4 linked regions of the Homo sapiens genome follow. The protein of the gene in region 3 interacts with the protein of the main gene of each other region in a biochemical or structural test. Each region holds a gene or a part of one and is shown on either strand. Other genes may lie near its edges.

What was found.
Region 1: the proteins of NRIP1 (region 3) and NR5A1 form a complex in vitro, tested with the Homo sapiens proteins (2 studies listed by BioGRID).
Region 2: the proteins of NRIP1 (region 3) and RARA form a complex in vitro, tested with the Homo sapiens proteins (4 studies listed by BioGRID).
Region 4: the proteins of NRIP1 (region 3) and THRA form a complex in vitro, tested with the Homo sapiens proteins (4 studies listed by BioGRID).

The regions. Positions count from the first base shown.
Region 1 is NC_000009.12:124,496,508-124,504,439, forward strand, and holds part of NR5A1 (steroidogenic factor 1), read right to left. Parts: intron 6,904-7,932; 5' UTR 6,889-6,903; coding exon 6,787-6,888; intron 6,714-6,786; coding exon 6,572-6,713; intron 4,209-6,571; coding exon 3,583-4,208; intron 1-3,582. UniProt on the Homo sapiens protein: Transcriptional activator. Essential for sexual differentiation and formation of the primary steroidogenic tissues. Binds to the Ad4 site found in the promoter region of steroidogenic P450 genes such as CYP11A, CYP11B and CYP21B.
Region 2 is NC_000017.11:40,346,637-40,354,568, reverse strand, and holds part of RARA (retinoic acid receptor alpha), read right to left. Parts: intron 6,254-7,932; coding exon 6,105-6,253; intron 4,786-6,104; coding exon 4,644-4,785; intron 2,660-4,643; coding exon 2,499-2,659; intron 2,239-2,498; coding exon 2,062-2,238; intron 268-2,061; coding exon 63-267; intron 1-62. UniProt on the Homo sapiens protein: Receptor for retinoic acid. Retinoic acid receptors bind as heterodimers to their target response elements in response to their ligands, all-trans or 9-cis retinoic acid, and regulate gene expression in various biological processes.
Region 3 is NC_000021.9:14,963,330-14,971,261, forward strand, and holds part of NRIP1 (nuclear receptor-interacting protein 1), read right to left. Parts: intron 5,198-7,932; 5' UTR 4,864-5,197; coding exon 1,387-4,863; 3' UTR 1-1,386. UniProt on the Homo sapiens protein: Modulates transcriptional activation by steroid receptors such as NR3C1, NR3C2 and ESR1. Also modulates transcriptional repression by nuclear hormone receptors.
Region 4 is NC_000017.11:40,058,702-40,066,663, forward strand, and holds the start of THRA (thyroid hormone receptor alpha), read left to right. Parts: upstream 1-4,263; 5' UTR 4,264-4,391; intron 4,392-7,962.

The sequences.
Region 1 (7,932 bases), on a different chromosome or scaffold from region 3:
GCCTCAGAGACCCGGTATTTATGGGTGCCAAGCTGACCTCCCTCCCAGCAGGGCCCCTCTGGAGCCCCCTGGGGTCCGATTGGTCTGGCTGTGAAGGCCGGTGGGCTGTGTAATTCTCTGGTGGCTGACACACCACGGGCTGGCCACTGCGCTCTGCCGGCAGAGTGGTCAGTGAGGTGTCATTTGTCAGCCCAGGACTGACAGTTACTGCCGCTTAAATGAAACCGTCTATCTGGGCAGTTAAATCTGCTGTCAGTGGGGGCCTCGGAGCTGGATGTTGAGGGTGAACGGATGTCAAAATGGGTCACTGGGCACTCCTGGCCCCCACCGTCCCCCCGGGTCCTCCCTTGCATCCTCCCAGCCTGTCCTTCGCAGTAAGTGACGAGAGGCTGACTGCCTGGGCCCTGGGCACTGCTGCCCACCAAGCAGCAGGTACAGGTGAGTTTCTTCCACCTCACAGGGAAAAAGTTGCTTTATAAGCGCAGGACAAAGTGACCCTCAGACGGTCCCAGAACAATCGTGTGCTCAGAGGAGCTTGGGTCCAATGTGTCTCTCCCTGCTGCCTCCCCGCCAAGGCCTGCATAAGCCTGCAGGCGTCGATTAAACAGTGTAGCTAAGGGGAAGAGAGGAAGGGTGCTGCGACCCCACTTCCGAAACTGCCCGCGCTCAGTTCTTCCCCTGTCCTTACTCACTAACCCTTTACCACAATCCAATGGGGTGGACATTATTTCAACTCCTCCCATTTTCAAGACGAGGAAACTGAGGCCCGGAGGAGTGAAGTCACTTGCCCAAAATCATACAGCATGTAAGTGACAGAGCTGGAACTTGACAACAGGCCTCTCTGATTCTAGTCTTTGATATTCACTTCTGTGCTACTATCGAATCTACCATGCTGGGATTGGTGTGAGATGGAAACATGGAGACGGAGGGACCCCCATACCAGCTGGGAAAGAAGATGGGGGAGGAAGACCCCAAGAGGGCATTTGGAGCTCAGCATCGGACACAACTGGGCCCCTGGCACCCCTGAGAGCTCAGCTGAGACTCCAGGACTCCTCCCGAGCAGCAAGATGTCATCAGCATCAGAGGGCTGAGTGGGCCTCTGCTCAGAGCCCAAGCTCTGTCAGGGGAGCCCCTCCCTGACCCGGAACCTGGAGCCCCAGCCAGCCCCGCAGCCATCCATCACCCACTGCCCAAGGACCCACTCCTGCTCCAGGCTCTGCTCTGGCCCTGCCAACCTCTCCAGCCCTGCTTCACAGGCCCATTGGAACTCCCGGAACACGATGCCTCTTCACATTTCGGGACCTTCGCCTCTGCTGTGCCCACTGCCTGGAATTCCCTGAACCTTCTCTACTTTCTAGAAAGGCACAGAACTGTTCTCCGACTTCCTTAGTTAGAGCTGTTTGCTCTCCCCCCAGGGTCCCCTCTGCCCCTTCCGTGGCTCTCAGAGCCCTGGGCACCTCGCACTGGCATTATCTAAGTGCATGTCTGACTTCTCCTCCAGGCTGGCAGCTTCCTGGGTCCAGATGATTTTAATGTCCCCAGTGTCCAGCCCAAGGGCTGCTCCACTCTCAGAGCCAGAGAGCCCCCTCTTCTGTCTGCTAAGATGTGTCCTGTCTGGAGGTGGGGAAATGAATGATCAGCTAGAAGAGACGCCGGAGTCACCCACACCCCTCCCACTTTTCTGTCTCCTCACCTCTGGACTTTGCAAAGAGACACCAGCCCAGGGTCCACTGGACCAGTGGAAAAGAACTTCCACATGGCTTACGAGAGGCGCTCTAAGGGCTGGGCTGGTACTTATCTGCAAGGCCCCTTTAGAGAAGCTGGTGACCACTGCTCATAATCCCGGGCTCAATTCAAAGACTTTGAGAAGGGGAAGCAGGAAGGTTTGGACCACGGAGAAGCCAGAAGCAGGAAAAAACACTCAGCAAAGCTGGGACAAAAGCCCTTCCCATCCTGCGTGAAAATCCCCGGGAGACTAGGAAGGCAGCCAGAGGAAGTGCCCTGCCCCTCAATCCAGGGTTCTGGAAGGCCGGGAATGCCCTGCTCCTCCTCCCCTCTGCACGGGGGGTGCATGGGAAGTCTGGAGGGAAGCTAGCAACCAACCCAAGATGCTTGGGGTCCTCATCCCCACCAGGGCCTCCAGCCATGAGCAGAAGGCAGGTGGGAGTATTCAAGACCCTGCCTTTTGCCTCATCCATTAGGTCGGACCAGAGAGGCGGGCAGTGTTGAGAAGGGGCTGGGGTGAGAAACCCACCCCATGACAGACACATGGTACATCCCCAGGCCTCAGCCATGACAGGCGCTCCACGGTGGAAGCCGTAGCCACCACCATCAATCCTCGACTCCCAGATGGCCCAGGCCCCAGTCCCGCGATGCCCCTAGGGCTCGGAGCACCCACCCCCACCTACCAGCCAGGGCAGGCAGTGCCCCCAGCCCATCCGGCCTCATGCCCCTGGAGGAAGCCCAGGCCCGAGTGGCGTCAGCATTGACAATGCTGCTCAAGGCTGCAGTGGCCCCAGCAGTGGGGGCAACGGGCCCTGCTGTTTACACCCAGCCCCAGAACAGCCAGGGGGTCAGCCTGGGAAAGCTAAACACCAATAGCCCTGGGTGAAAGAGTGCCTGAACCCAGGCCAGGGAGGGGCAGGCCTTGGTCAGCTGGAGGGGCCTCTAGGGAGGTCTCAGAGAGCCAGGGCACTGGAGGGGCAGTTCTGGGGCCTCAGGCTCTTCAAGCCACTAGGTGGGAAGACTGGGAAGTTCTTTCCTATGTCTAGCCTCAGTTTCTCCTGCTGCTTTCCTGATTACTGTAGCATCAGGTACCTCGACCCAGGGGGAAAGAAGGCCATGCCATAGAGGAAGGCTGCCTCGCCAGGGAAGATCAGTGGCAGACCCTGGAATCCCCCACCCACCTACCTATCTAGCTTCCTGAACACCCACACACATGCACATGACCATCCAGCATACGCAAGATTTGCAGAGGCAGGAGGATCTTTCACCTTAGCTGGGAAGGAGAATGGCCCACAAATGCCCCAAACTCTAAAACACTAAGAGCCCCCATCTGTGTGTGACACTGCCAATCCTTGCCAGCCTCCCTGAATGGGAGGACAGGATGGGCCGGACCCCCTTCCCAACACTAGGCTGAAGCCTGGGGAGGCAAGACAGTCTCCCAAGGACTCAGCTAGTCCTTTGAGGGAGCCCAGGGTCTCAGAGAATGAGGGAAATGAGTACTGAGAGAGCCCCAGAATAGGGAACCCCAGAGGCTGAAGGGGTTGCAGAGACACCAAGAAGCAGAGAGACAACATGCAAGGGAGAGACACAGTAGGAAGAGACAGAGGCAGAGATCAAAGCAGCAGTGGCTCCTTGAGCAGAGGCTCAAGGAGGAGAGAAGGAGAGGGAGGGAGCGGGGACCCAGGAGGCTGTGATAAGTGGAAATGCTCCTTAATGTCCCCAGGGTGGCCTCCGGGTCCCCAGGTACTGCCTGAAGCCAGTGGGAAGGATGGCCCTATCCAAAGGACAGTCGGGCTAAGGCTTGGGCAGCCGGGAGGACCATGATGCAGGGCCAGCCGGGCGGGAGGAGAGACTCACCTCCAGCTCCTTGAAGACCATGCACCTGCGTGCCCAGTCCACGATGGAGATGAAGGTCTGGTCGGCCATTCTGCACAGGAGGCCGAAGGCCGCCGGCTGGTCGGGGCGGCTTTTGGTGGGCTCCTGCAGGCAGCCCAAGATGCGGGCCCGCACCTGGTCCTCATCCGGCTCCAGCTGCAGCAGCTGCAGGATGAGCTCAGGCACGTTGGGCCCTCCAGAGAAGGGCTCTGGGTAGCCGTACGGCAGCCCAGGCTGTGGGGGGCTGGCATAAGGCTCCGGGTACTCAGACTTGATGGCACGGCCAGGAAAGGCAGGGTAGAGGTAGCCAGCCAGTGGCCCGTGGGCACCGGGCACGGCCATGGGCAGTGCTGGGGCCCCAAAGTCGCCCAGTGGCCCAGCAGGTGGACCGGCGGCCAGGCCCTTGGGCTCAGGCCCATGCAGGCTGGGAGGCAGCACGTAGTCCGGTGCGGGAGGGGGCGGCGGGGGCACCCCCATCGGGGGCCCTGTCTCCAGCTTGAAGCCATTGGCCCGAATCTGTGCCTTCTTCTGCTGTTTCAGGGCCCGGTCCCGCTTGTACATCGGCCCAAACTTGTTCCGGCCACCCCTCATACGGTCAGCGCGCACGGCTGTGGGCAGGGGCAGAGGGTCAGACTCACCCTCTCTAAGCCCCCTTCCATGCTGCCCCACCACAGATCCTTTCCAAACAAATCTGACCGCTCTCTCCCCTGCTCAACACCCTTTCATGGCTCCCACTGACCACAGGGGAAGTCAGTCTCCTTTGCCTGGCATTCAAGGCCCTGCTCAGCTTTTCAGGCAATCCCTGCTAAGACCCCTCTCCTTCCACTCCACCGAACTCACCTCCACTCCTCTGTTTGACACATCTCCTTCCTCCTCCACCCTGCCTTTCATTTTCCTTCTGACTCAAACTTTTTTTTTTCTCTTGTGCTTGCTGAACACCCAGCCTCAATGTCACTACTTCCAGGAAGCACTCCTGGATTCATGCAAACGGGCTCTACTGTCCTTGCCCCAGGTGCCCTGTCCTTGCCCACTCTTATCATGCTGAGTGGATCATGCCATGTGCTCCTGCGGGCTAAGTTCTGGGCTCAGGTGTCTAGCATAAGGCCTGGCAGGGAGATGGTGACCGGAAGGGGACCCTGGTCAGCCTTGTTCACCGCTGGCCCCAGGGTCCAGCTGTTTGTTGACTGACTGCCTGACTGTTGAGCTCCTGCTTCAAAATGACTCAAGTATCCTTCACTGGCTGCGAATGTGAAGCCAAGTTTAGAGCTGGCCAAGGCTCTATGCTGGGGGAGGGGACCTCTCTTGCCGACTAGAAGCTCCTCCGCCTGGCGAGGAATGTGTCATCAGCCAGACCCAACAGGTACATCTCTGCAGCTGGAGTGTGCCCCCCGCCCCTGCTCAGACAGGGCCCCACCCTGGGATCTGGGCGAGGGGAAAGAGCAGGAGAGAGGGGGTGGTGGTGCTCAGCAGGGATGATGGCTGGGGGGCTGCCTGGCCAATCTTCCTGCCCCCTGGGGTGGGCAGCGCTGTGCTGCTCGCAGGCTGCACGGGAGTTTCTACTGCCCACAACAGCCAGCTATCTGGCCCCTTGGGACCTGGCACTAGGGGCATGGGCTCTGGGGACAGGACAGGATGTCCCCTCTCCCATCCAGGAGTCCTTTCTCCAGGTGGCAGGGCATGTGGTCCACCACTCTCAGAGCCACCTGGGGCTTTCTACACTGTTCCAAGACCTTAATCAACCACTGCCTGTTCAGCACACAGTCCAGTGACCGGCCACCTCCAGAAGCTCAAATCTTTCCTGCCAAAACTTACCTCCTCCTCTCTGGGCTGAGAGCTGGGGTTGAGGGTAGGGAGGCAAAGAGGGGCCTGGGTTTCTTGGGGGCAATTCAATTGTCCCCCACTGCCCGGCCCCCTCAGGGCCTGGCTAAGAACATGACGGGAAGGAATCTCACTGGCTGAGCCAATAAACCAGAGAGCCCTTTGGATGGACGGACAGACAAGCAGATGGGCAGCTGAATGTGTGGGGGCTGGGCGGTGGTGGTGGGCAGATCCTAATGGAAAGCGTGATGGGCTTGACAGCTAACCTGCGGCAATGAACGCCTAGGCACCTTCAGCTTGCCTGCACCGATCCCCACACTCACTCACTGGAGGAAGGCGCTGCCGTTAAGCCCATTTTTCTTTTCTTTCTTTCTCTTTCTGCCTTTTCTTTTCTTTCTTTTTTATTTTTATGTACTTATTTTTTGAGACAGGGTTTCCCTCTCGCCCAGGCTGGAGTGGAGTGGTGTGATCATAGCTCACTGCAGCCTCGACTTTCCAGGCTCAAGTGATCCCCCCACCTCAGCCTCCTGAGTAGCTAGGACTACAGGCACATGTCACCACGCCCAGCTACTTTTTTATATTTTATAGATACAAGGTTTCTCCATGTTGCCCAGGCTGGTCTTAAACTTCTGGGCTCAAGTGATCCTCTTGCCTCAGCCTCCCAAATGCTGGAATTACAGGCATGAGCCGCTCCATCCGGCCAAGCCCATGTTTCACATGGGAAATCTGCGGTTTAGAGAGGTTAAGGATTTTGCCCAATGTCACCCAGCCTGACTGACAGTGCGGGCACTGGGACTTGGCCTCTGCTGGCTGGGGTTGGGTATTTTGGGGGCATGGGGACCTCCTCACAGAGGGAGGAGCTCTGCCGACCCTGTGCTGGGGCCCTGGCAGGGGCTGGGGAAAGAGTCATCTCCATAGGGTTCACTTTTGGATACTTCTCAGCCCAACCCAGGCTGGCCTTGCCAGCGTCCCTTCCCCGCCCGAGGCCCACCCAGCGCCAGCGCCCGGTTCTCTTGCAGCGACTGGGCCCTAATGTCGCACGAGGGGCCTTCGCGAAGGCCAATGGTACTATCCCCTCAGCCCCTCTCCCACCCCCACCCCCTACCCCCTCAGGCTGTGGGGGGTCAGGGGTCGAGGCCCGCGCGGCGCGCACCTTCCAGGCGCATCCCCACCGTCAGGCATTTCTGGAAGCGGCAGAAGGGACAGCGCTTGCGCTGCGTCTTGTCGATCTTGCAGCTCTGGCTCTCGGTGCACGTGTAGTGCTTGTTGTTCTGCACCGTGCGCTTGAAGAAGCCCTGCGGGAGCTGAGAGTCAGCGAGGCCCCGCAGCGCCCGTCTGCCGCACCCCTGCCGCGCGCTCGCCGCTCACCTTGCAGCTCTCACACGTGAGCAGTCCGTAGTGGTAGCCGGACACCTTGTCCCCGCACACGGGGCACAGCTCGTCCAGGTCCTCGTCGTACGAATAGTCCATGCCCGCGGCGTCCGCCTGCGGAGGGACAGCGGGTCAGGGAGGGCCGGCGGAGACCGGCAGCCTGGGGTCCCCGCGGCCGCCGCCCCAGCCGCTGTCGCCGGCCCGTCGCGTAATCCCCTCTCTGTGCCCAGGCGCTGCCGCCGGCACCCACCGAGCGCCCCGCGCAGCGTCCCGGGGTGGGTCCGGTGCAGTCCCCGCGCCCGGCCTTCCCCTGCCAGGCCCCACGCTCCCGCCCCGTCCGGGGGGCTCCTCCCGCGCGGACCCCGTCGCGCCCGATCTGGGGCCCTCGGGTTCGATGCGCTTCGATTGGGATTCGTTTGTCTGAGAACAAAACCCCGATTCTGAGAAAAAGAGATGGGCTCAGCCGCGGGGAAGACGCCAGGGGACCCAGGAGCGCTGGGGCGCCCGGCCCGGGTGTTCTGGGAACCCGACAGAGACGAAGGAGGCAGAGACAGAGTCCGGGGGAGCCAGAGATGGGAAGAAACTCTGGCGAGAGACAACGACCGACGCCACCGGGCGCAGACACGAGGCCAGTCCGAGAGTGCCAGAGACACAGACACTGAGACGCCCAGCTAGAGAGAACCCGGCGGGGACGAGACACAGGGAGGGATGGAGAGAGACAGGGAGACAGAGAGAGAGAGAGAGAGAGAGAGAGACGAGAGAGAGAGAGAGAGAGAGAAACGAGGGGTGGGGGATTGGATCAGAGACTCGGAGAGACAGCGGAGGCCCGAAGAGAAAACCCAAGAGAGACTGACGCAGAGCCAGAGACACAACGATAGACGACAGACAGAGACGCCGAGACGAGAGGAGCCCCGGAGAGACGAGGCCGGGGAGCTACAGAAACACGGAGAGAAAACCTGGAGGCGGAAGCGCCCAGCCCGAGGGTCGGGGACAGGGGACGCGCGGAAACCTGCCGGGCAGGAGCCCAAGCGCCAAGGCGAGGCCCCGCAGGGTCGGACCCAGACGGGGGCCCGGGCCGCAGGAGGCGGAAAACGACGGCGCCGGGACCGAGAGCCCGAAAACGCAGAGCCGCCGGGACCCCCT
Region 2 (7,932 bases), on a different chromosome or scaffold from region 3:
AAGAGACTCCAGGGCTGCACCCCCGTCCCAGCCCAGCCCCCAGACCCAGGCCCCCTGCCCACCTCCGCAGATGAGGCAGATGGCGCTGAGCAGCCCCGTCTCCGCATCATCCATCTCCAGGGGCAGCAGCTGGTTGGCGAAGGCAAAGACCAGGTCGGTGAGGGGGCCGAAGCCAGCGTTGTGCATCTGGGTCCGGTTCAGGGTCAGCCCGTCCGAGAAGGTCATGGTGTCCTGCTCGGGCGTGTACCGCGTGCAGATCCGCAGGATCTGGGTGCAGAGGATGCTTGGGTTCAGGGACTGAACCCGAACCCACTCTGAGCACTCGGCACCAGCACTCCGCACCAGCACTCCCGGAGGACCACCTGGCAGGTGGCCGGAGCAATGCTGTCTGATAGAATTTTCTACAATGATGGAAAGGTTCTACGTCTGCACCATCCATACCTCAGCCACCAGCCACATGCGTCTACTGAGTACTTGAAATGTGGCTAATGCAACTGAGGAACTGAATTGAGTTTAATTTTAATTAATTTAAATTTAAAGAGTCACATGTGGTGAGCAGCTACTGTACTGGATAGTGCAGGTCCAGGTCATCCTGCCTACATGCAAAGAATGTAGAGGGGACCTAGAATTTCTAGGAGCTAAGGAACACTGGGCTGCTGCCTACAGCTCCCAGGATGAGGTACACAACAAGCGCTCAGTAAATGTGTATTGGCTTGAATGTGGTTGCAGGAACCCAGACGGCACCTCCTGCATCCACGGCATGGGGATGGGAGCCCCTGCAGGCAGCACAATCTAAACCTCCCACCCATCACCCGCCTCAACATTCAGAGGTGCCCATGGAGAAATGACAGTCTGCCGGCTCACGCGGGAGGATCACCTGAGGTCAGGAGTTCGAGACCGGCCTGGCCAACATGGTGAAACCCCGTCTCTACAAAAATACAAAAATTAGCCGGGTGTGGTGGCGGGTGCCTGTAATCCCAGCTACTCAGGAGGCTGAGGCAGGAGAATCGCTTGAACCCGGGAGGCAGCAGTTGCAGGCTGCAGTGAGCCAAGATCATACTACTGCACTCCAGCCTGGGTGACAAGAGTGAAACTCCATCTCAAAAAAGAAAAACATAAAAAGAAATGACAGTCTCGTCAAATCCCAGGTTCCCCACCCTGGAGGTGACCAAGAGGGAACAGGTGGACCGAGCCCTTGTCAGGGACAGCAGGAAGGAGAGTGCTCCCTCCAGCCTAGGCTTTGGCAGTTCCCACCACCTCTTCCTGCCCCCACCCCCTGCATCCAGCCTCCAGCCCAGTCTACCCTCGGGCTCACCTCACCGAGTGCCCGGCAGTCCCCTGAGCTCAGCATGGCCTCACAGCAGCAAGTCTTTCACTTCCTGCTCCTGAGTTAGGGCTACCCTCTCACCTCCCCCTCTACAAACCCCTAGATGTCACCTCCTCTGAGACATCATCCTTCAGGCCCAAGCAGTCACAAGCCCTCCCCCAATCTCCAGGAAGCATTGATCACAGTTTTGCAACCTCTGTTGACTTATCTCTTGCCTCACATGGAAGGTTTTCAAGAGAGGGGATGGTGGTGCATTCACCGCTGGGTTCCTGACACCCAGCTCGAACACTGGCCAGAGGATCCTAGGTGAATCTTTTTAGTTTTTTGCAGAAATAAGGTCTCACTATGTTGCCCAGGGTGGTCTTGAACTTCCAGCCTCAAGTGATCCTCCTGCCTCGCTCGGCCTCCCAAAGTGCTGGGATTACAGGTATGAGCCACTGCACCTGGCTCCTACGTGAATCTTTATTACTGGCTAAATGGATGGATGGCTGGGTGGCTGGATATGTGTATGGGTGAACAGGTGAGCTCCTGCACATCTGGCTGCTAGGTGGCTGAGTGGACAGGGAGACGAGTGGACAGGTGGACATATGGGGAGAGGAAGGGCAGACATTTGGGCGGTGGGCATTTGGACAGGTTGATTGCAGACAGACATTTAGGAGGGTGGCTGTCTGGCTGGAAGGACATCTACCCAGGACACAGGGGCAGTGCCTGGGGGCCAGGGTGCAGACCCTCACCAGGATGTCCAGGCAGGCAGCCTTGAGGAGGGTGATCTGGTCGGCGATGGTGAGGGTGGTGAAGCCGGGCAGCTGCTTGGCGAACTCCACAGTCTTAATGATGCACTTGGTGGAGAGTTCACTGAACTTGTCCCAGAGGTCAATGTCCAGAGAGACACGTTGTTCTGAGCTGTTGTTCTGGGGGAGGAGGGAGAGTGAGGGCCTTCTTCTCCATGGCACCCCTTCTCAGCCTGGCTCCAGCCCCCACAGGCCTGCCCTCTACCCAGCCTTCACTTCCTGGGAGCTCCTTGGGAAGAGGCAGCAGGAGGAGGGAGAAGAGAGGGGAAGGGAAGGACGCAGAGATCTTGCCTGGCACAAGAAGGGGTGCCTGAGAGGGGCCCATCCTGGCCCTGTGGCCCTGGGCAAATCCCACCCTGCAGGCCGGGGGAAAGCCATACCGTAGTGTATTTGCCCAGCTGGCAGAGGGCAGGGAAGGTTTCCTGGTGCGCTTTGCGCACCTTCTCAATGAGCTCCCCCACCTCCGGCGTCAGCGTGTAGCTCTCAGAGCACTCGGGCTTGGGCACCTCCTTCTTCTTCTTGTTTCGGTCGTTTCTCACAGCTGTGGAGGGCAGAGGGGGTTAAGAGGGCAGCTGCAGGCTGCTCAGGGCCTCGTCCACCCCCAGCCTGACAGAGAGCTGCCAGCTGCTGAGGAGGTCACCCAGGCTTGTAAGCACGCGCACACAGCACGCGTTCACGGGCAGGCAAGGCATTGCCACGCACTCCAGCCCTCCATGCCCACCCAACCCACACATCAAGTTCTGCCCCAGAAGCCCCATGAGCACAGCTGTGGCCCTGCACACACCCCCCACCCCACCCCATAGCCAGCCGCATGCTATCCCCCACGCGTCTACTCCAGCTCACACTCCAGGCGACGGTGCCCTCCTAGGTGCTCTGCCTCCTCTTTCCCCAGGAAGGTCCTTCTCCCGCCTCCACTCACCCAGCCCTCCCAGCTGCAGTCTCCCTGGGGGTCCCTTGGGACTGGCTCTGAGCAGCTCCTGGGGCAAGTGGGGAGTAGGGCTCCCCAGCCTGAGAGTGGGGGACCTGGCGGGGAGAATCTCTTGGCCCATTAGCTGGGGAGCTGACAAATCACCAGGGGCGCTGAGCCGCACACACCACTCGGCTTTAAAGAAGCGATGGGGTCGTTACCAGCCGATTATCCAGACACACAATCACTCACAGGGCTGGTGGTGGTGGCTGCTGACGCGGGAGGAAGGGAGGGTGGGGGAGGGGCTCAGGGAGGGGGTAGCGAGGTGGGGGTAGCTGGCATAATTTGGAGATCACTCATGTCGATTCTGCAAATTCAATAAAGTGCAGGGGAGAGAAGGGAGAGGGAGAGGGAGAGTGGGGGGATAATTTGGGAAGAGAAAATTGCAGCTGTGACAAGACGTTTATCATTCGGAAGCTTTAATTCTATTGAAATGGCAGCTGCTCAGCTCCGGGGCACAGAGCAGCCGGGAGAGGGGGAGTTGGCGGTGGGAGGGAGAAGGGGAGTTGGCGGTGGGAGGGAGAAGGGGTCCCCTCCCTGGTCCTTCTGCCATGAAAAGAGCAGAAGGTGGCACAAACAGAGAGGAGGAGGTGACAGCCCTTAAGCGAAGGGTTCCAGGCTTGTGGGTCTTGAGTTGTCACCCACTCTTGCAGCAGGAGCCACTTCCTGGGCTCAGGACAAGGCACCCCCAGCCTCCTGTGGCAGGACACTCCAGTCCCCTCCATTCCTGTCTGGGGCTCTTCGTGCAACAGTCAGAACCATCTCACCCGTGCCCCCTCCCCACTGCCCTCCCCACAAAGGGCTAGGGGGTCCTGCAGCCCCCTCCCCCATCCCATCCCCCAAGGCTCAGGCTCCATGGCAACGGCCACGCAGACAAGGAGGCGTCTGTCAGCGTCATTTATCTCTGACATCATCAATCACCGGTCACCATGGCAACACCCATGATTCAACACAAGAGGGTCTCCCTGTCCAGCCTTTCCCTCCCTCCCTCCATCAGGCCTCAGCTGAGCCCAAAGTGGAAACCCCGTTTCCTCTGGGATCTGAGAAGTCCCAATTCTTTCTTCCAACTCTGAATCCCAGGCTTAACTAGACAATGGCTTTTGGATCCTTGTGCCAGCCCTTCCACCCCCCCATACACACATAAGTCCAGCCAAGCACCCCTCAGAATTCAAGCCCCTCCCCTAAGACTCACAATCAGAAGGGACTGCCTATGCCTCTGAGCCCCACCCCAAAACCAAGCACGGCCTGGAAGAAAGCCATCCTGGAGCATGCACACACACACACATACGCAAGCACACACAGCCAGACGTGCAGAAACAGGAATGGTTACACATACACGGTCCCGGAGCACAGACCTGCCCGTGGACACACAGCCAGCCAGACTCGCAAACAGGTCCTTGCAGCTACACACAAACCATCCTCAACCGTGAGCCCGCACACCACGGCATGCGTGTTCATGCATGTGCACAAACATCCACAGAGCCCTGCTCCCTTGGTCTTTAGGAGCATCTGAGACCCCAACTGAGGCGGGACTCGGCCCCTGCCCTATGGCACTCACACTCCTTGGACATGCCCACTTCAAAGCACTTCTGCAGTCGGCAGTACTGGCAGCGGTTCCGGGTCACCTTGTTGATGATGCAGTTCTTGTCCCGGTGACACGTGTACACCATGTTCTTCTGGATGCTGCGGCGGAAGAAGCCCTGGGTATGGAGGGGAGGGAGTCAGGTTGTCCACACCCACAGTGGGAGCAGTGCCTGGCTACGGTCTCAGTCTAGGGGAGGAGGGCCAGGCCAGCTGCTGCCCCCAAGCGTTTGCCCATCGCCTACCTGAGCAGGCCAGAAAAGCTGGGGAGAATGATTCACCTAAAAGGATCCTCCTCAGGAGAATCCCAGTACCTGCCTCAACACTGCAGGATGGGCAGGAGTCTTCCCCCAACCCACAGCACACACCTGACTCCTCCCTTCCAGGGAAAAGACCTCAGGGCTGCTGGTGAGTCAGAAATAGGAAGACATGGGGCTAACTGGGCAACAGCCAGGGATCTGGAACCCACACCCCTGAACTCAGAACACAGGAAAAGAAGACAAGCCCGAAGAGGCCAGGAGGCAGATACACGGGCTGGCCAGAGAAATGGAGGCGAACACACACATGCACTCAGGAGCAAGGCAGAAAGATGTGAGTTCACCAAGACAGGTGTGCACCGACCCATCACAGACACAGACCCAGGCTGGCCAGGGGCTCCACATACAGGCTGACCAGAGGGACAGGCGGACAGAGGAAGAACAGACCAGGAACAACCAGACAGGACAGGCAGACACACAGCCTGAGTCCTTGTGCTTTGCCCTTGACCTCCGTCCCACATCTGGGGATAGCTACTCCAGGCTGAAGAGCAGCCCAGAGCTGCAAGGCCCAAAGCTGTGAAGATTCTGAGCCCCAATCTCTGGAGGAAGAAACGCACACAGAGGCTCAGGCCCCAGGGAAAGGAGGAGAAGCCGGGCGCAGGGCTGCTAAGGACCAGGTATACCTGCACCCTGGCACCTAACGTGAGGATGGGGAAATCCAGCCAGACACTGGGGAGCCCACAGCCCGGGCACCTGAAGGGGAAGCTAAGGCAGGGTGCCTGCTCCTAACTGCCTCCTGCCAGGCTGCCATGGTGAGGTTCAGGCAGGGCCGCCGGGGGAGGCCTCCTGGGTCCCCAGCCAAGAGCCAGTCGGCAGCCAGCTCACCATGGCAACCTGGGCAGCGGTGGCAGAGCAGGCGTACGCCCTGCCAGCTGGAGGATAGAGACAGGGAAAGGAGCTGAGGCAGGAGGGGACCTCTGGTTTGAGGGAGCCCTGCACATTTATGGGGGAGGACCTGTGGGGAAACTGTGGTAGGTGTCCCTGCTTGCTGCCAACTTCCACAGAGAAAGAAGAGCAGCAACTTCAGGGACACCCCCCAACTGCACACTCCCAGGACACAGAAGTGGGGACATCCCATTGACCTCATCAAGCTGTCCTTCCCAATGACCCCTTCAACTCACCTTGCAGCCCTCACAGGCGCTGACCCCATAGTGGTAGCCTGAGGACTTGTCCTGACAGACAAAGCAAGGCTTGTAGATGCGGGGTAGAGGGGGTGGCGAGGGAGGGCTGGGCACTATCTCTTCAGAACTGCTGCTCTGGGTCTCAATGGCTAGAGAGAGAAGAGGGGAGGGGCAGTTAGAGACCTAGGTCGCCATCCTTAGTACCAAGCTCCACCCTGCCTCACCGTCCCTCCTAAGAGCCTCTCCCAGCCTCACCACTGCTGGCAGGATTCAAGTCTTAAGAAAACTGGGACTCCCCAGCCAGACTCAGGGCAGGAGGCTGCCAATGAAGCCTCCAGCACCCCATCACTCCTCTGGACTCCTAGGACCCCCACCTTCAAAACCACAAAGATACAATGATAAACCATCACATTTGTATGTGTGCCGTGACTGTGCTTGGGGAGTAGGGGTGGGGGTCACCCTGATTCTAAAGCTCTTGCCCCTGGGCGGCCTGGCCCCGTTCTCCCCCCGAGTTAGGAAGGAGTTAACGCTTGAAGAGGAGGGAGGGAAGAGGACATAAGCTGGGGGCAGAGGAAACTGGGGTCAACAGGATATTCAAAGCCGGCCACTCCCCCGCCCCCTCTGCTTCCGCTCCCCCCTCCACCCCATTCTGCCAGCAGCCACTGCCCCTCCTCCACCCAAACAATCCCAGGGCCAGGGACCCAAGGCAGGGGGTGCAAAGAAGAGTCACAAATGCTGGGCACAGTAGGAGGTGTCTCCCTGAGATAGGGGGAGATACCCTGAATACAGGGAGAAGAGTCCCCAGGGCCCCAAAAGCCCATTATTCTGGGTACCCCCCATCTGGGGAGAGATGGCATGACAAAGGGGGTCTGTTCCCATCAATGCTCTGTCTGTCTGGCCTCAATACTATGTCCGGGTTACTAACCCCTCCCCTTCTGTTATTCAGCTCCAAGAGGGCAGCCAGGAGGGGTGACCCAGACAGCAGGGGCAGCCCTCACTGGCCAAATCCTCCCCAGTGTCTGGCTCCATGCCCATCACTGTAGGCAGAACAGGGCTGGGTTGGGTAGGGGCTATCCATGTCCAAAGCCTGGGCAGCTAAGGGTGTTGGGTGCAAGATAAGAACTATGACCAGGACAATCCCAGATTCCCAAGGGGCCACGCAGCATCGTCCTGAGGCCCCTACCAACGTTCAAGTTCTCTTGTCCAGGGCCAAGGATGGATGAGGATGCCTCCCTAGGTAGACAGATCCCTGCCTCCTCCCATATTCCACAATCCTACCTAGCCCTACCCCAAACTCCGGCACATGAGACTGGCTGGCATTTAAAGGTGCCCACAGCTCCTGGCCCAAGCACCTTACAGACATGAGTCACATAGCCCCAAATCACATGGCCCTAAAATTGGGGCACAGAGGAAGGAAGCATGGGAACACCAGGGGCTGACTATGTGCTACCACCCTCCCCCCTTACCTGCAGACACAGTGGGGGCTGCTAGGCGGCTGATGACAGGGAACTAGGCCAACAACCTTGGCAGGGCTTTCCTGGCTCTTAGTAGTGCCTGGGCACCACTTCCCAGGCCAGCCTGGCTGACCAGCACTGCTATGGCCCCCCATCCCCTTCCCTGCCCCAAGACCAGCCTGCAGCAATGGGACAGTTGATGCCCACACCATCCCCAGCCCAGCAGATTCTCTCCTGACCTCCCCACCGCCGTCTGCTCTTCACTCCAACACCAACTGCCCTGGCCTGGTTTTCTCCCACCTCATTCTCCCCAGGCCAGACAAGCAAATCAGACAGGCTGAGAGGCCTGAGAACAGCTGCTGGGGGGGCGGGGT
Region 3 (7,932 bases):
CTGTTTTTCCATCCCTAAGGCTAACTAAGTAGATGTTACTCATTAGAACACACAAATAATCACAGATTTTCCTGAGATGTTGAGCCAGATATGAAAGTTATCCCCTCCACCCAATTTTTGTCATAAAAAGTGTTCTGAACCCGATTTCCAAAGACATAACGGTAATATATGAACTACAATATTGCAAATTTTGAGCTGATGTGTGACTGTATTGGGGAAAATAGAGGCATCACATAGTTTTTTGTTTTTGTTTTACAGTCTCATGTTCTGAGGAAAGTCATAAGTCATGGTTCTCAAACACAAGAAACACCTAGAGAGCATGTTAAGATGCAGATGGAAGATTCCAGGTCCACTTAGCAGAGATTCTTGTTCTGTAGATCTGAGATGCTGCCTATGAATCTGCATTTTAAAACAAGTGCTCCAGATGGTTCTAATGCAAGTGGTCTGAGTTCAGGTTTAAGGAATCCTGGTCATAACACTCGCAGGTACCACAGGAATGGTGAGAATTAACTTTTACAAGAGATGGTGAAAACTGTCCAAAGAAAAGCCATTTTGCTTCTGTTAAAAACAATTTCTTAAATATTCAACTTTTCAGGAAACCACCTAAAGATAAATGTTAACTTTTCTAATTCTGTAAAAGGAGGAGTATTAATTTAGTAAAGTAGTTAAAATACAAAAAATGGAAATCTGCCTTTTTTTTAAAGGATCTATCAAACTTCCCTCAATTGTAATCAATTTTTACTAAGTAGCACAAGGTTTAAAGAAATATATATTGAAAAGGATCAGGGTGGGACAGACACATTGGGAACCACAAAACCTCTTCCAAGAGTTAAAAATAAACACCTTTTTTTTTTCTTTTTAGCAAAAGTGAAAAATGTAAGCATATATTTTTCTAATTTATTTTTGAATTGGATAATAAGCTGTGAATCAGCACTAGGTTTTTTTTTATTGGATAATTATCCTTTAAAGAGTTGTTTAACAGTTTAGACTTTAAAAATGTGTTATGTAGGCTGACTTCTGAAAAGCAAAATAAAGTACCCTAATAAAGGCAGCAAAATGCATTAATCCACTATGAATGGAGTTTTACATTTTAATTTATGCCTAATATTTATAAAAGAATTTCATTCATAGGCTACTCACAGTTGTTATCTGATGCATACAGAAGTGTTAAACAACCAATTGCTAGTTCAGTAGTTTCCTCATGACATCTAATGTTAAGCAAAAATTAGTATGCATATTTCAACATCACCAGTAACCAATACTTTTCAAAATGAAAAAAGTTTCAATTATACCATGCTTTTTTTCAAATCATGCTCTTATTTATACAGATCTCAAGTTCATACTCATTAGTTTTAAAAAGATCCAAAACTGGATGGCAGGTACATTTTATTCTGATTCTTTCTTTATCGTTAGCACGCTTCCCAGAAGTCCATAAACTTCTCCATTTGCGCTGTGTGGGCGAGAAGCATTATTTCCCATATGGCTATTGTAAGGGCTTCTTAAATTAAAGAAAGAAGCTTTCGTTTCTGCAGTAGGAAGTAACTCTTCTTTGGCTGTGACCTGTGAGACACTTTCAGCAGATGAAGCCTCCCTCCAAATGTCCTTGTCTTGTGTTTCTCGACTGGTAACAGAATTGCCTCCTTTTTGAAGCATGTAATATAGTATTGGGTTGGTTTTGGTCAATCTTGGAGAGTCTTTTTCATACTCATTCTTCTCCGCATCAGTGATAACCCACTTAATGGGTCCTTTCTCACTGGGCATGGAACACCCATTCAAAAGCCCAGATTCTGGTCTAGACCCTGCACAGCCCAAGTGCTCAGGGAAAGTAGGACTCACAGGAGTTTTTACTACACCTGGGTATGAAAATGTCCTGTTATCCATGCAACTGCTGGGCTGAGTGGAACTGTACATCAGTCCATTTAAAGAAGAAATGCTAAATTCAGGTTTGCTGTTGGTCACATTATTTTTGTGTCCTTTCTTTTTACTGTCAGCCACAGAGTTACTTCTGTGCGGGGACAAATCTCGCACACAGTTTTCTGAGAGAAGCAGCTGTTTCAGAACATTAAAGCTTTTGCTCTCTCTGGCCCAACTCCTGTGTTCACTTTCGCTGGCTGAGCCATGACCAGCAGGATATTTAAATTCAAGATCATTTCTGCTAAATTTCAGCTCTTCCTGGTTAAGCAAGGACCCATACAGTACTTCTGGGGCACTGTGATTGTTTGCAGCATCAACAATGTTGTTTTTCATCTTTTTAAATGGATTTTCTAATGGCTCAGTATAAAGCTTCCTTTTCTTAGGGACCATGCAAAGATTCTTTGATTCTAGAAGTGCCATTTCATTATTTCTGTGACTCCTGTCTGAATCATCTGCCAGGTAACTATCTTGATTTTGTCTTAGCAATCGACTTAGCAGACCATTCTTGGAGAAAGAAAAATCCTGAGGTGAAACAGGCTCCGATTTAAAGTCTTCGGACACTGGTAAGGCAGGTGCGCTTCTCTGCACAGCAGGAGCCATACCCAAGAATGGGGCACTCTTAGCATCATGGCTCAAGTGCACATTTGTGTTAGGAATTTGTAAGTCATCACAAGGCTCAGATTTTATTTTCACCATCAGTATTTGTTCACTTAAAGCTCTCTCTGAGTGTTCCTGAGTACTTTCATCTCTTAAGGGAGTTTTCTCTTTTTTTTCACTCTTCCCTTTGTTGGGGTTCCCCAGGAGCAACTGGAGGACAGTACGTCTTTCAAGCAGATTTTCTATTTCAGAACCAGAAAGCCCTGGTTCAGGACCTGTTGGTTGACTACTAAATGCTTTATTTTCTTCAACTGCATTTGTTTTATTTGAGAGCAAAGGGCTATTTAATCTATCAATCATACCTATCGGTTTATCTGTGTTTCCAGTTAACAGCTGTTTGCTGGGTCTCTGCTCTTCCACTGACATGGATGACTGCATTCCACATTGTGCTAAATTTTGTAACAGCTTACTGGCACTAAACGTTGCAGAGTTCTGTGCACCTTCATTTTGGGCTGGTTTCTCTCCTGGTGGGTCTTTGCTTTTTGTAAGGTCCATTGAGTGGTTAGATGCAGTATTTGTTAGCTTTTCAGACTGAGTACTGCAGACATATGGTGGGGAATTCCATTTGATGACCAGAGAGTGTTGAGAGAGATTGATGGGAGACCCTGCTTTGCTTGATGTAAGTAAAGGTGGAGTGCTCACTGGAGTAGTCCGATTTGTACTGGGGCTTTCTATCACAGAAGTCCTTGCATAATTTTGTGTATTGAACTTGCTCACATCATTGTGTACTCCCTGAGGGCTGGTGTTTTTTTCTACATTTTCTTCATTCTTATGGCCAAGTAGCAATTGAAGAAGTGTTACTTTCTGGTGTGAGTTTAGCTTAGAATTCTTTGAGGTATCTTGATCTTCTTTGATATCTACATCTGGGACTTTTGGATCCCAAGTGTTTAGCAAGGATTGAGTGAAGTTATCCAGGGAAACAGGTTGGTCAGATTCTGATTTTTCAGTTCGGTGTTTGCAAGACAAGTCTATGGGAACACAGTTGGAATAAGAACTTTCATCACCACTGCTGTCATCTGTAAAACTAGGATTGTTATCTGAATATTCATCAATAGTTGTAGGTGTACTACTTTCCTCAAAAATGCTTCCTCTCTCACTGTGACTGTGTCCATTCATTGGCTTAGGTATAGTCTGGCTTTTAAGAAGATGTAAAAGCAAACTATTGTTAGCAGCTTGTTTTATATTGTTTCTTTCCAGTGAGTTCTTATAACCTGCATTTTTAGGGGAAGAAGGAATGATACCCATTGGATTTTGAAACACTGTAGCACTACTTTTGCTAGCCATCAGTTTGCTTGATGATGTTCTTGCCTGACCATTAAGATGGCTTGACATTCCTTTTGGGAGCTGGTAACTGCCAACATCCTTCTGGCCATTTTCTTGCAATCTGGCCATAGCAGCAAGTCTTTCACTTGCTGCTTGATTTGCATTTTGCGTTTTTAAAGCGTGTTCTCGAGAATACTGCTGCAAATGGGCTTCGCTTGACAGAAGTAATGCTAACTGGCTACAAGCAACACTAGGTTTAGGTGAGGTGGCAGGACTAGCCCTTTTTTCCACCATGCTTGCAACAGCCTGTAATCTTGCAGCACATGACAACGGTTCACTCATGACCTTTGTTCCACTTTGTCCAACATGATGAGGAGACTCTGCAAACCTATCTCTGATGAGGTTTTTAGTCACATCAGGAAGATTCGTATCAGGCTTTTGATCTTTAACTTTACTTTTCTTCAACAAAGTTTTTAAGTGACTTGATGCAACACCATAGCACCTTAAATCCTTCTCCACTTTTAAAGAATCATGACTGAGGGCATATCCTTGCTCCTTGAGGCTCTGCCTGATTTGTTGTGACAGAGCAACAGTCTGCAGCCTAGAGCTGAATGACTGAAGCAAAGAGGCCAGTAATGTGCTATCCTGTTTGCCTTTAGGCACACTGTCAACCATGCCAGCTAGCAAAGCTTCCTTCTTTACGTTTAAATTCATGATAGAATCAGACAGCCTCTTCCGCTTTGCTGCATTCCAGTCCTCAGAAGACTGCAACAGTCTGGCTTTTTTGAGGTGCAGCATGCCAGACCCCTGATATGTATGTGTATTGAGAACTGGACCATTACTTTGACAGGTGGGAAATGCACTGCCAGAAATGTTAAAGTTCTGATCCTCTTCATTATGCCCAGCAGACTTTTTGTCAACGGCAGTACCTGATCCCCCTGCTGCCTGATGCATTAGTAATCCTTCTAGGTAAGTTAAAACAATAGAATCCTGGTGCACATCAGAGCCAAGCTCTTCTCCATGAGTCATGTTCAATAGAAGTGTTCACAAGGGCTTGGTTTCTATTCACTTTAAAGAATGGTTTTCTGTGGTGAGTGCGATGTAACTTTAATAAAGGAGTATCAGTTTATCACCTTCCATCGCAATCAGAGAGAGACGTACTGTTACATTCTGTCCAAGATTTCTTCTGGCAATGACAAGATAAATGCAGTCTGACCACAGTGCTGATCAACTTCTACGCAAGGAGGAGGAGAAGAATTCCTTAACACATAGGTCTGTAGCAGTAAGCAGATAGAATCCTTAGTGAATATATTCCTTTTCCTTCTTCATCTTTTGTTCCCCATTAAATGCAAATATCAGTGTTCTAAAAAAAATAAAAATAAGAATAGTTAAGGAGGCAGAACTAGAATCACGTTATGATACCTACAAGCAAAATAATATAGCATCTGTAAATGTATATATATATTACATATAAATAATAGACATATAAATGGATTATAGTCACTTTAGTAATTTGTTTTATTGCCGTTCCTATTCAATTGAAAATGTCTACTGGAAATCCTGTGGGTTAATGCATACTGTTAAAATGATCAAATCATTAGAGAAGAGAACATACTTTAATGTTACATAGCCATCTTCCAAAGCCGCCAAGTCTCTGAATTTTCATAAGCACCTTTCTGCAAAGTAATGTGAATGTTCAGTCTCCTTTATAGCTTTATAGCTCTACAGGGGAACTAGAACTTGCTTCCTTACATTACTGGGCACTTAGGAAGAAACAAAAGTAGATGTGCAGAAAAAGGAAAAGAGATGCAGACTCTGATGAGTCTGATGTGGGGTTGAGGCCAACAGAACAGATTCATTTCTGACATCATCCCCCAAACACCAGACATTCCATAAGTAATTTTTAGAATTTCCGTTTTCAAAAAAATGAAACCACTAACAAGTTGAAGATTATTTTGTGAGTCTGTTCAAAGTGTGACCATCTTAATCATATTCATAAACATTAAAATACAGTCATAAACTTACCTACCCATACTTTTTACCATGACTTATTAAAGACAGAGAGGAGTGATTCTTTAGATGCTTGTTCAGGGCTATCAAGGGTTTAATGTAGTTCGTTAGTAAATCCTTACTCATGTGCTCTATGGAGAAGTCTTAATGTCAGGTCCATTCCTTACAGATACAGAAGACAGGGAGGGCATAAACATATATAAAAAGTACAATGGAGAATGCCAAAGACATTTTAGTCACAGTTTGAAAAATATTCCAATGATATTTATTATCTAAGAAGAGACCAAAAAATTTCCTATCACTAACACATACACAACAGAAGAAGCAAGAACTCATTGCATTTCTGAAAACTTGATAGGTAAGTGTCAAAATTGACCTAAGGAAGGGGGGCCATGACACCTTTGGAAGAGAAGCTGGAATAAATTCCATGCAGTTTGTTTTTCAAGATGCCAGAACATTTTGTTTAAGTTATCAGACCTGAAGCTATCAACAAATACCTTGGTCCCTATGGAATTTAAAAGATAAATTTTAATTGAAAGACTACCCTGTAGCTTTTTAAGTACAATGCTTAACTCTAAGTCAAACTTTAGGAAATAATTATCTGATTGTATCAAATTGTTGAATTTATTGATTAAAAGGATAAGAAATGATAGCCAAAGAAAAAGATACAGAAAGGAGGCAGCAACAATTAATTTCAACTGTGTAAGGAGTAGGATGAGAAGAGACTTTCTTGAGATTCCAATGCCACCATTTTAAGAAGCTTTGCCATAATGTACTTAAGATGGATATTTTAAGAGGTTAATAATGATATAGAAATGAAATGGTTATCATGACTGCCACCAAATATCCATTCTCCCATTTTCATTTACTAATAAAACCCTGACTTGTTTTTCAGGGAGTAGGGAGGTATCCCAGCTAAACACTACTTTTCTCCCCCCTCTGGTTATATTTTACAATTGATGGCATGTTGCTTAATTGGAGGCTTATTTTTCTTTCTTAGTGGTATAAAACATACGGGTACATTTTACAACTGATAACATCTTGGAGTTGAGGAAACCCAGTTTTCTAATTCTCTCAAAAAACTTAATATGGCCAGGTACGGTGGCTCACACCTGTAATCCCAGCAATTTAGGAGGCCGAGGTGGGTGGATCGCCTGAGGTCAGGAGTTTGAGACCAACCTGACCAAAATGGTGAAACCCCATCTCTAGTAAAAATACAAAAATTAGCCGGGTATGGTGGCATGCGCCTGTAGTCCCAGCTACTCAGGAGGCTGAGGCAGAAGAATTGCTTGAACCTGGTAGGCAGAGGTTGCAGTGAGCCGAGATCGTGCCACTGCACTCCAGCCTGGGTGACAGAATGACACTCTATCTCAAAACAAACAAAACAAAAATAACAACTGCTAATATACAATTAATTCTCAACTAGTTAAGACATTTAACAACCATTTAATGGGATATGCAAGTCCACTGTATTTCTCTCCACACCACTGCCAACCTTTTTGCTCTTGGGTAGACTCAAGAAAGTCAAAATCATACCAGTCATTTGAAAACTGGTTTGTAAACAGCCATAAAACATACTTTATTTAAGAATAAGAATGAAATAAGGAGCATCTTTGAGTTCATATTACTCCTGTTATTGCTTTCTACTTTTTACTGTGCATGATATAATTTGCAAAGTATTATTCATTGCTTTAAAAAGACTGAATTTACACATTTCTGAATTTACAAAGCAGATTTGGAAGTTGATTTAAAAAGGAATTATCACAGTTTCCTTGTAAAGGAGCTCTAACACTGTATTTTACCATTTATTTACCTCTCTACCATTTATTTCCTATCTTCACAGAGAAAGTAGATGACAGATATTAAGAATAATCATCTCTTAATAATCCATTTTTTGGCAATCAGCTTTCTCAGGTTGAAAATCATTTCTTACATATGAAAACAATTTTTAACTTCAAGAACGAAAATGACATATACAAATAATTTTATTAAGCTCCTTGGGTCTGAGGACTGTGCTAATTATAATTACTACAGTGCAACACAGTCAACAGATAACTGAACCTTGGGATACATTAAGTTATTCAATGA
Region 4 (7,962 bases), on a different chromosome or scaffold from region 3:
GGCAGGCGGATCATGAGGTCAGGAGATCGAGACCATCCTGGTTAACACAGTGAAAGCCCGTCTCTACTAAAAATACAAAAATTAGCCAGGCATTGTGGTGGGTGCCTGTAGTCCCCGCTACTCGGGAGGCTTAGGCAGGAGAATGGTGTTAACCCGGGAGGCAAGCTTTCAGTGAGCCAAGATCACACCACTGCACTCCAGCCTGGGTGACAGAGCAAGACTCCATCAGGAAAAAACAAACAAACAAAAAAAAAAAACAGTGTCAGATTAATGAATAAAATTAGGAGAAACCCTGAAAGACAGCCTGGAAAAGGTGTCAGCTTCCTTTTCCATTTCTCACCTCAGCTACCAAAAGCAAGACTCAGCCAGGCCTGGTCCCTTCCCTGGCTCCCTCTTTTGTGACCCATAGCAATAGCGCCTGATGGGACAAAGGGGAGAATTAAGTGGCCACTTTCTCTTACCAGGTAATTGCTAATTTGCCAGTCTCTCATCTCCTGCATCAGCCTCCCAAGTAGCCAGAACTGAAGGTCTGCACCACAACACCCAGATAATTTGTGGGTTTTTGTTTTTGGTTTTTTTTTTTTTTGAGATGGAGGTCTCACTATGTTGCCCAGGATGGTCTTGAACTCATGACCTGAAGAGATCCTCCCACCTCAGCCTCCCAAAATACTGGTGATGTCAGTCAGCCACCTTGCCCAGCCTGCTCTCCAACTTTCTTTCCTCCATTTGCACCACTCTTTCTGATTGGGAAACCCCTAGGAGGGAGAAACATCTGAGCTTTGAGTTCTCTTGGCTGGTAGTACCTCAGTTTCCTCTGCTGTCTTTCCAGAGCACCCCCAATAAGTTCAGCTCTGTCTGCAGAGTCTAGAGGTATATGCTGGACATGTCATCACTTGCTGACCTAGGGTCCAAGAGGTCAAGATGAGATAGAGGAAGGGATTTACTGAGGCCCAGGCCACAGAGCTTGTTCCATGGTGGCTGGTAGAGGGGCCTATCTCCTGTTTCCCCAAACTGCTAGAGATGTGTAAGGCTTTTGAGCAGGGGTAGAGGATGCTGTGTGGAGTTTTAGCTGCCAGACTTTGAAAAAAACCTCTTCAGAAAGATATCTGGATACCTTGGTTCCTAGGGGTCGTATCCTCAAGAAATCTTAGGGTGCTTCCTAGCAACAGTCTGGAAGGAAGGGAGGGAGAGATGGAGGGAGAGAGGGAGGGGCCTAGGCATGGCTGTTCTGATGGGAGCCCAGAGAACAGGCTGTTCCTGCTACCTCCTTAGCAACGGAAATCTCAGCTGGAGGGGCCATCAGACATATCCTCTTGGAGGGTCTATCCAGCCTTATTCATGCCACCCCTACCCTCCTCATAGATTCGGGGAATGCTCTGAAGCAGAGGTGGGGAATGGGAGGGGACAGCCCTGGTGGTGGTGGGGGGTTTCATGACAAGGACGGAAAAGGAGCTGAGGATGAACTCAATCTGAGAAGAGCTAGCAGCTTCAAGAAATGGGTGGGCAGGGTGAGTGGGGTGGGAGGACAGATGAGGCAACACAGGGACAGTGGCTATACGCCCAGACACGGGCTGGATCCTGGCACCTGGGGAGAGGCCTGCTTTGAAAGCAGTGTGCCCTTCACTTTGCCCTGCCCAGACCTGTCACCAGTCCATACTGGGAGCCCAAGAAAAAGAGAGAGGTAAAAAGAAGATGGGGGTGGCCGGGGACGGTGGTTCATGCCTGTAATCCCAGCACTTTGGGAGGCCAAGGCAGGAGGAGCACTTGAGGCCAGGAGTTCAAGACTAGCCTGGCCAACATGGTGAAACCCCTTCTCTACCAAAAAAACAAAACAAAACAAAGCAAAAAAACAAAAATTAGCTGGGCATGCTAGCACATGCCTACAATCCCCGCTACTTGGGAGGCTAGGACATGAAAATCCCTTGAACCCAGGAGACGGAGGTTGCAGTGAGCCAAGATTGTGCCACTGCACTCCAGCCTGGGCAAAAGAGCAAGACCCTGTCTCAAATAATAATAATAATAATAAATTTTAAGAAGGAGAAGATGGGACTGGTAAACCCTTGTCTTTGAGTGCTCCACTCTGCCCCTCAGGAAAAAAAAAAAGTGGAACAGGAGGCACTTCATTTTCTATGGCTCTGGGTTTAGGATTTCAGAAAGTCGTCACCACCCAACATTATAGGGCCTTGCATCAAAGAGAGATATGGTGGGGAAAGCCAGAATGGAAGAGAGACAAAACCGTAGCACCTTCCTCCTCCCCCTCTGGACACCATCACTCCTGCCCTGATCCAGATTACCGCTGGCCCTCCCCACTGCCTCCTAGTTCTGCCTTTGTGATGCAGAGTATAAATGTATCTCATGCATTGGGATTCCCTCCCAGCTCCTTGAGCAGCCCAATCCCAAGGGACTAGTTCCATACAGGGTAGAGTACAGACCCTGAGCACTACATACTGCAGCCTTGCTCCCCAGGGTTCCGGCCAAACCTGATCACCGAGGAGGTGGCATCGACTGGCAGACAGCCACCCTCAGTGCACCTCATTCCACTCACTGCACTGACTCTGCACACTGCAGCCTCCTGCCCCACACTGCAGCTGTTGCTTGTCTCCTGTGAGCCCAGACTGAACACAGGTTCGCTTACTGCATGGAGGCTCCGTACGCTGCAGCCTCAATTCCCCATTACAGCTGCCACTGCACACCACAGGCTCCCTTCACCCATGGCATGCCCTCAACACCACCACTGCACTCTGCACGCCATAGGTTTCATCCCAGCTGCTCTTCTCATCTCCATGGTTCCAGGGACCCCAAGAGAGGTACCCTCCCCTCCGCCAAGCATTACGAACTCCAGTACCCCCTGTGAAAGAAGTGGTTCCAACAGCACTGAGGATGCAGGTGGCTGAGACTAAGACATGAGCAAGGGCAGCCCAACTTGGGTAAGCTGTGGCTCAGAATCCCACACTCGCCAAGTGACTCTGCCCAGTATAAACTGGGCGATTAGCCGAGCAGCTCCCCCTAACACACACACACTTACACACACACACACTCACACACACACCCCTCCCCAAGAGCAGACTATGTAGCCAGGGCCCCACCCTGAGAGCCGTGGGAAGGCTGTGGCCCCCGCTGGTAAAACTGGGCTAATGACAGCAGGGGAACCGGCGGGGCCAGGGGGGTGCTGGGGTAATTAGGGCTCGGCCTGGCGCTAGGAGATCCTGAGATGAAAGGTGCTCTGGCGTCACTGGGTTGGTTTTATGTCCATGAATGCAGGTGTGTGGTGTGTGTATGTGTGTGCTGGGGGTGGGGCTGGCATGGTGGAGACCTCTCCTTTGGGTTGGGTTAGGGGGTCCATTTGTATGCAGCCCACCGTCTTCCTTAGATTGACTCTGGTACCATTTGGATTTTTGTGGGAGCAAACATGGGGGGAAATACCACCACCCGGGAGCTAGGAATTGAGGGGGTATGGCAGATCTTGTCCCCTCCCCGAGCTCAGGAGAGGGAGCAGATTGTTGGGGGAAATGGCTGGTGACAGAGAATAGAAAGAGCCTATATGGAGAAGGGTGACGTTGGAAAAGGGAGGCAGTGGATCGGTATTGATGTTAGAAATGAGAGGGGAGGGAGGTAACAGGGAATGAACCCCCACAAGGATGAAAAACGTAAGATGATTGAAGTTAAAAGGACATCAGGGGTCACCTGCCCAGCCCTCGCAGCTGAAGCTTGAGGAAGCTCTGCCCCCGACAGCAGTGGCGATTTGTCAAGGTCACACAGTGAGTTACCGGCGGAGAAGGGACCCGAACTCCCAAACAAACTACACCTGCAAGCGTTTGGTGTTTAGACTTTCTCCCCGATGTATAAGGTGCAGGCTGCTCGTCGATACTTCCTCCTCCACCCTCACGGTGCACACCCGAAAACCCCCCAATTCTCCCGGCAAGCAAAGGCTATTTTTTAATGACATCTTTTCCAAAATATGTCACCAAGTACCCACTCCTGCGGGAGCCGCCCGGGCTGGGGAGGGCGAGTCCGAGCGGGGCGGGGCAGAGGCGGCCGAGGGGCGGCCGGACCTCTGGCGGGGGTCCCGGGGCGCGGCAGGGGGCGGGGGGCGGGGGCGGGCGGCGGCGAGGCGGCCTGCAGGGAGCAGCCGCGAGCCGGCCGGGCGCGCCGAGCCCGAGCCCCAGCCGGAGCGGGGCGGGGGAGGGAGGAGCCAGAGCGGCCGCCGCCTCTGCCGGAGGAGCCGCGGGGCCGCCACACTCGCCCCCCGCCCCCCCCGCGCTCACTCGCACTCACACCCGGGCGCAGGAGGCGGGCGGCCCGGGCCCCACCGGCCCCCCATGGACGCCCCCAGCACGGGGCGCTGAGACCCCCGCGTCGCTGCCCAGCCCGGTCCGGCGCGCCACGCCGAGGTAAGGAGGAGGGAGCGAGGGGGCATTAATATGCAAATGCCTTGCGATTGATTATGCAAAGCCGCGGGGCTCCGTGGCCAGCTCCCAGGCGGGCTAGGGGCGCCCAGGGGGTGCCTGCTGCCAGCCTCAGCCTTTCCTGGCGCCCCAGTGACCCTGTCACGAGCCCGGGAGCTTGCAACTGACGCCCTGGGGAAGGGAGGTGTTGCTAGGAGGTCGCTGGGCCCCGGGGTTCGCAGGCGGAGATGGCGTCCGAGCCTCCCCCTGGAGGGCCCGCCCGGCCTCTGTCCGGCCAGTCTGCTGCGCATTCCCGGGCCGGGCCCCGTTGCCGGCCGCCGGAGCTCCCCCGCCCGCCGCGCCGCGGTTTGTTTACGGTGCGCCGGAGGCCTGCCCCCCCAGCCCCCACCCCTAGCCTCTGAGGCCCGAGTGGCCTTTGCAAAGCTGCCTCCAGCTGCGGAGGGCAGTATGAGTGCGGTGGCGCGGGTGGGCTTGCACGGGTCCGGGGAGAGGGAAGTTCCCCCGCCTCACCCGCCTCCCGGTTGAGCATGGCTGTCTGGTTGCAACACTGCTAATTGCAAAAACGCGGTTGTTGGGGGGGAATGTGTGTGTGGAAGGGGTGTACTTGGTGGTGCCTAGATGATTAGGAGAGTTGCTGGCTGGGGAGGAGAGGGAGAAATGGACCTGTGTGTGTGTACCCCACCTTGTTTCCCTCCCCTTGCAACGTGTCTCTGGTGCCCCTTCTCCATCTGGGGCCCTCCCTTGTCCAGCGTGAAAGAAAGGCCTGGGGGGATGACAGGGGCAATTGAAAGAACCACCGTTCCAGGGGTGGGGGTGGGGGACACAGAAGGAAAGCCAGTGAGGTGGGAGCCTGCCCCTCAGTGCTGGCTTTGGCTCCAGGAGGGGGAGGGGATGAAGGGGGCTGTTGTCCAAAATGAGGGGGGAAGCAAAAGTGACACGCAGACACAGAGATATGTCCACACAGACAGCCACATGCACATCCAGGGACACCCAGGCAGACTCAAGGACAGGAGCTACTGGACACACCCACATGGGGACAAGGGAAGAGACAGGCTGCTGCTGCACCGTGGAGCTCTGAGGGGTGGGATATACCCATGGGAGACCAAGAGCATGGGGACCGATCCATGCACATACCCACGCACAGGGTCACACGTAGATGCTGTCACACACTGGGGCAAGGAGGAGTTGCTGTCACCCACACATAAAAAGTCACTGTCACATGCATGCATGCACACAGAGCAATTGCACACAGCAGCACAATTACAAAAGACCCTGTCACTCACAGGCACACACGTGCTCGCATGAGCCCAGTCACACAGACATCATTGCTTGCCGTGACAGTCGCTGTCACTCAGTCAGATGCAAACACAGTTACACACCAACACATGTATACACAACTTAGCAACAAGTATTTTCCTGGACTCTTTACTGTGGAGCTCTGAGGTTCTGTAGGCAACAAAACCCTTGCTCCCAAGAATATTAAATTTGGCTGTATGAAAAAGTGTTCCTGCGTAATGGTGTAAAGCATGCATTCCCAATGACATGTTCTTGGTCTCTATCGCTTGAGATACCACCCTACTAGACAGTGAGCTCTTGGAGACCTGGGAGAATCACTTAAAGAGCTCTGGATCCCACGCAGAGCCTAGCACAAGGGCTGCTCTGTAAATACTTGTTAGTTGATTGACTGTGGAACCTGCAGACACAGGTGCACTCATTTGCACATGGTCCCCTGAACTCAGGTGCAGAATGAGTTCACAAGGCCCAGGTCCCCACAGTTGCAGGTCCACACCAACAGTCGTGTCCACACAACCCCAGATACACACAACTGCAGCCTGTGCAGCCGAGCACACACTTAGATGCACACAATCACAAATTTTTCCCCTTCAGCTTCCTCCTCCCCTTTTTCCTCTAGGCTCAGCCACTGTGCGGGAATGGGCTGTTTTTTTTTTCTTTCTTTCTTTTAGAGGGACAGAGAAACAAGAGCAAAGACAGTGGGTTCAGGGGGGTTCCAGAGGGCCGAGTCATGGGCTCAAAGCAGTGTCCAGTGACTTCTAGAAGCTAGGATTCTCTTGACTGTTGGGGAAGGGGAGAGCTGCTCTCCTCCCTACCCTAAAAGCTCAGGGGTGTCTAACTGCCCCTGCTCTGAGTCATTTGCCTGGGTCTTTCCTGGGAACAGTCAGTCACTTCCAGCTGAGTTCCTGCGCCCCACCTTGAGTCTGGCCCTTTTTCCCACCTGTACCCTCCTGTCCAAACTTGGAAGCTTTCCTTAAGAGGCCATCGGCTGGCGAGTGTCTGTGTGAGTGATATGTACTTTTGACTTGGAATTTCTCTCTAACTCTGTCTCTCTGTTGCTCTGTCTTGCAGTGTCTGATTCTCCCTCTCTCTCTCCTTGTTTCTCTGCCAGTCTGTAACTCTCTCTCACCCTGTTGCTACCCCCGATCTACCCCTGTCCTTGTCTCAGAGCTGGGGACTGGCAGCAATGTTCTTCATACTTTTCCAGTTGTTAATACCCAAGCTCCGCCCCTCTGCCCCCCCTGCGCAGCCTCTGGGGTCAGCTTGAGGTTGGGGTGGGGGGCGGGGGGCTCAGCTGGCTGCTCAGGACTTCCTGCACTTCCTTAGTGCCGCAGCTGTGGCCAGCAAGTTTTAGGGGCTGGGAATGGGGGAAGGGGGGGGGGGTCAGCCACTGCCCATGCTGACCCCTCGGGCCTGCATGTCTGGAGACACCAGTTCTGTGGGCACCCTCAGGGTGCAGGCTGCAGCCAGCTAGCAGCTCTTAAACAAGCCATGAAGAGGCTCCCCCCACACTGGCCCAAGCTGGAAAAGAACCGCCCCCATGGGCAGTGGCGGGAGCTGGCAGGACCCTGCTGAGTTGGGTCCACTGCAGGGCTCACAATGGCCTTTCTCCACACCCCTGGCAGCTGAGGCCCACCTCAGAGATGCCCAACAGCTGTGTCCTTTTTGCCCAGCCTCAGGGCCTGGTTCTGAGGGCACAGCTGCCTAGACTAAGTATGTACTAAGCGAGGCCCTCCCACCCGTGAGTGCAGGTTCCAGCCTAGAAGGGGTACCTCTTCTGGAGAGGGAATTTGAGGAGGGGGAACTCAGGCAGGAGACATCGAGCCCGGGGGCACCAAGCACTTCTCGCTATGCTCCCCTCTAGCCTTGGACTATTTGGAGGTGGAGGCACTTGGCAGAGAACCCACAGGGCAGCTACAGAGGGGAAAGACTGAGGCTTGGTCTCAGGGAACACATAGCTGGATGAAAGAACAAGGCATTGGGCCGGGCACAGTGGCTCACACCCGTAATCCTAGCACACTGGGAGGCGGAGGCAGGCAGATCACCTGAGGTCAGGAGTTCAAGACCAGTCTGACCAAGATGGTGAAACCCCATCTCTACTAAAAATACAAAACTTAGCTGGGTGTGGTGGCGGGGTCCTGTAATCCCAGCTACTCAGGAGGCTGAGGCAGGAGAATCGCTTGAACCCAGGAGGTGGAGGTTGCAGTGAGCTGAGATTGTACCACTGCACTACAGACTGGGTGACAGAGCGAGACTCCGTCTC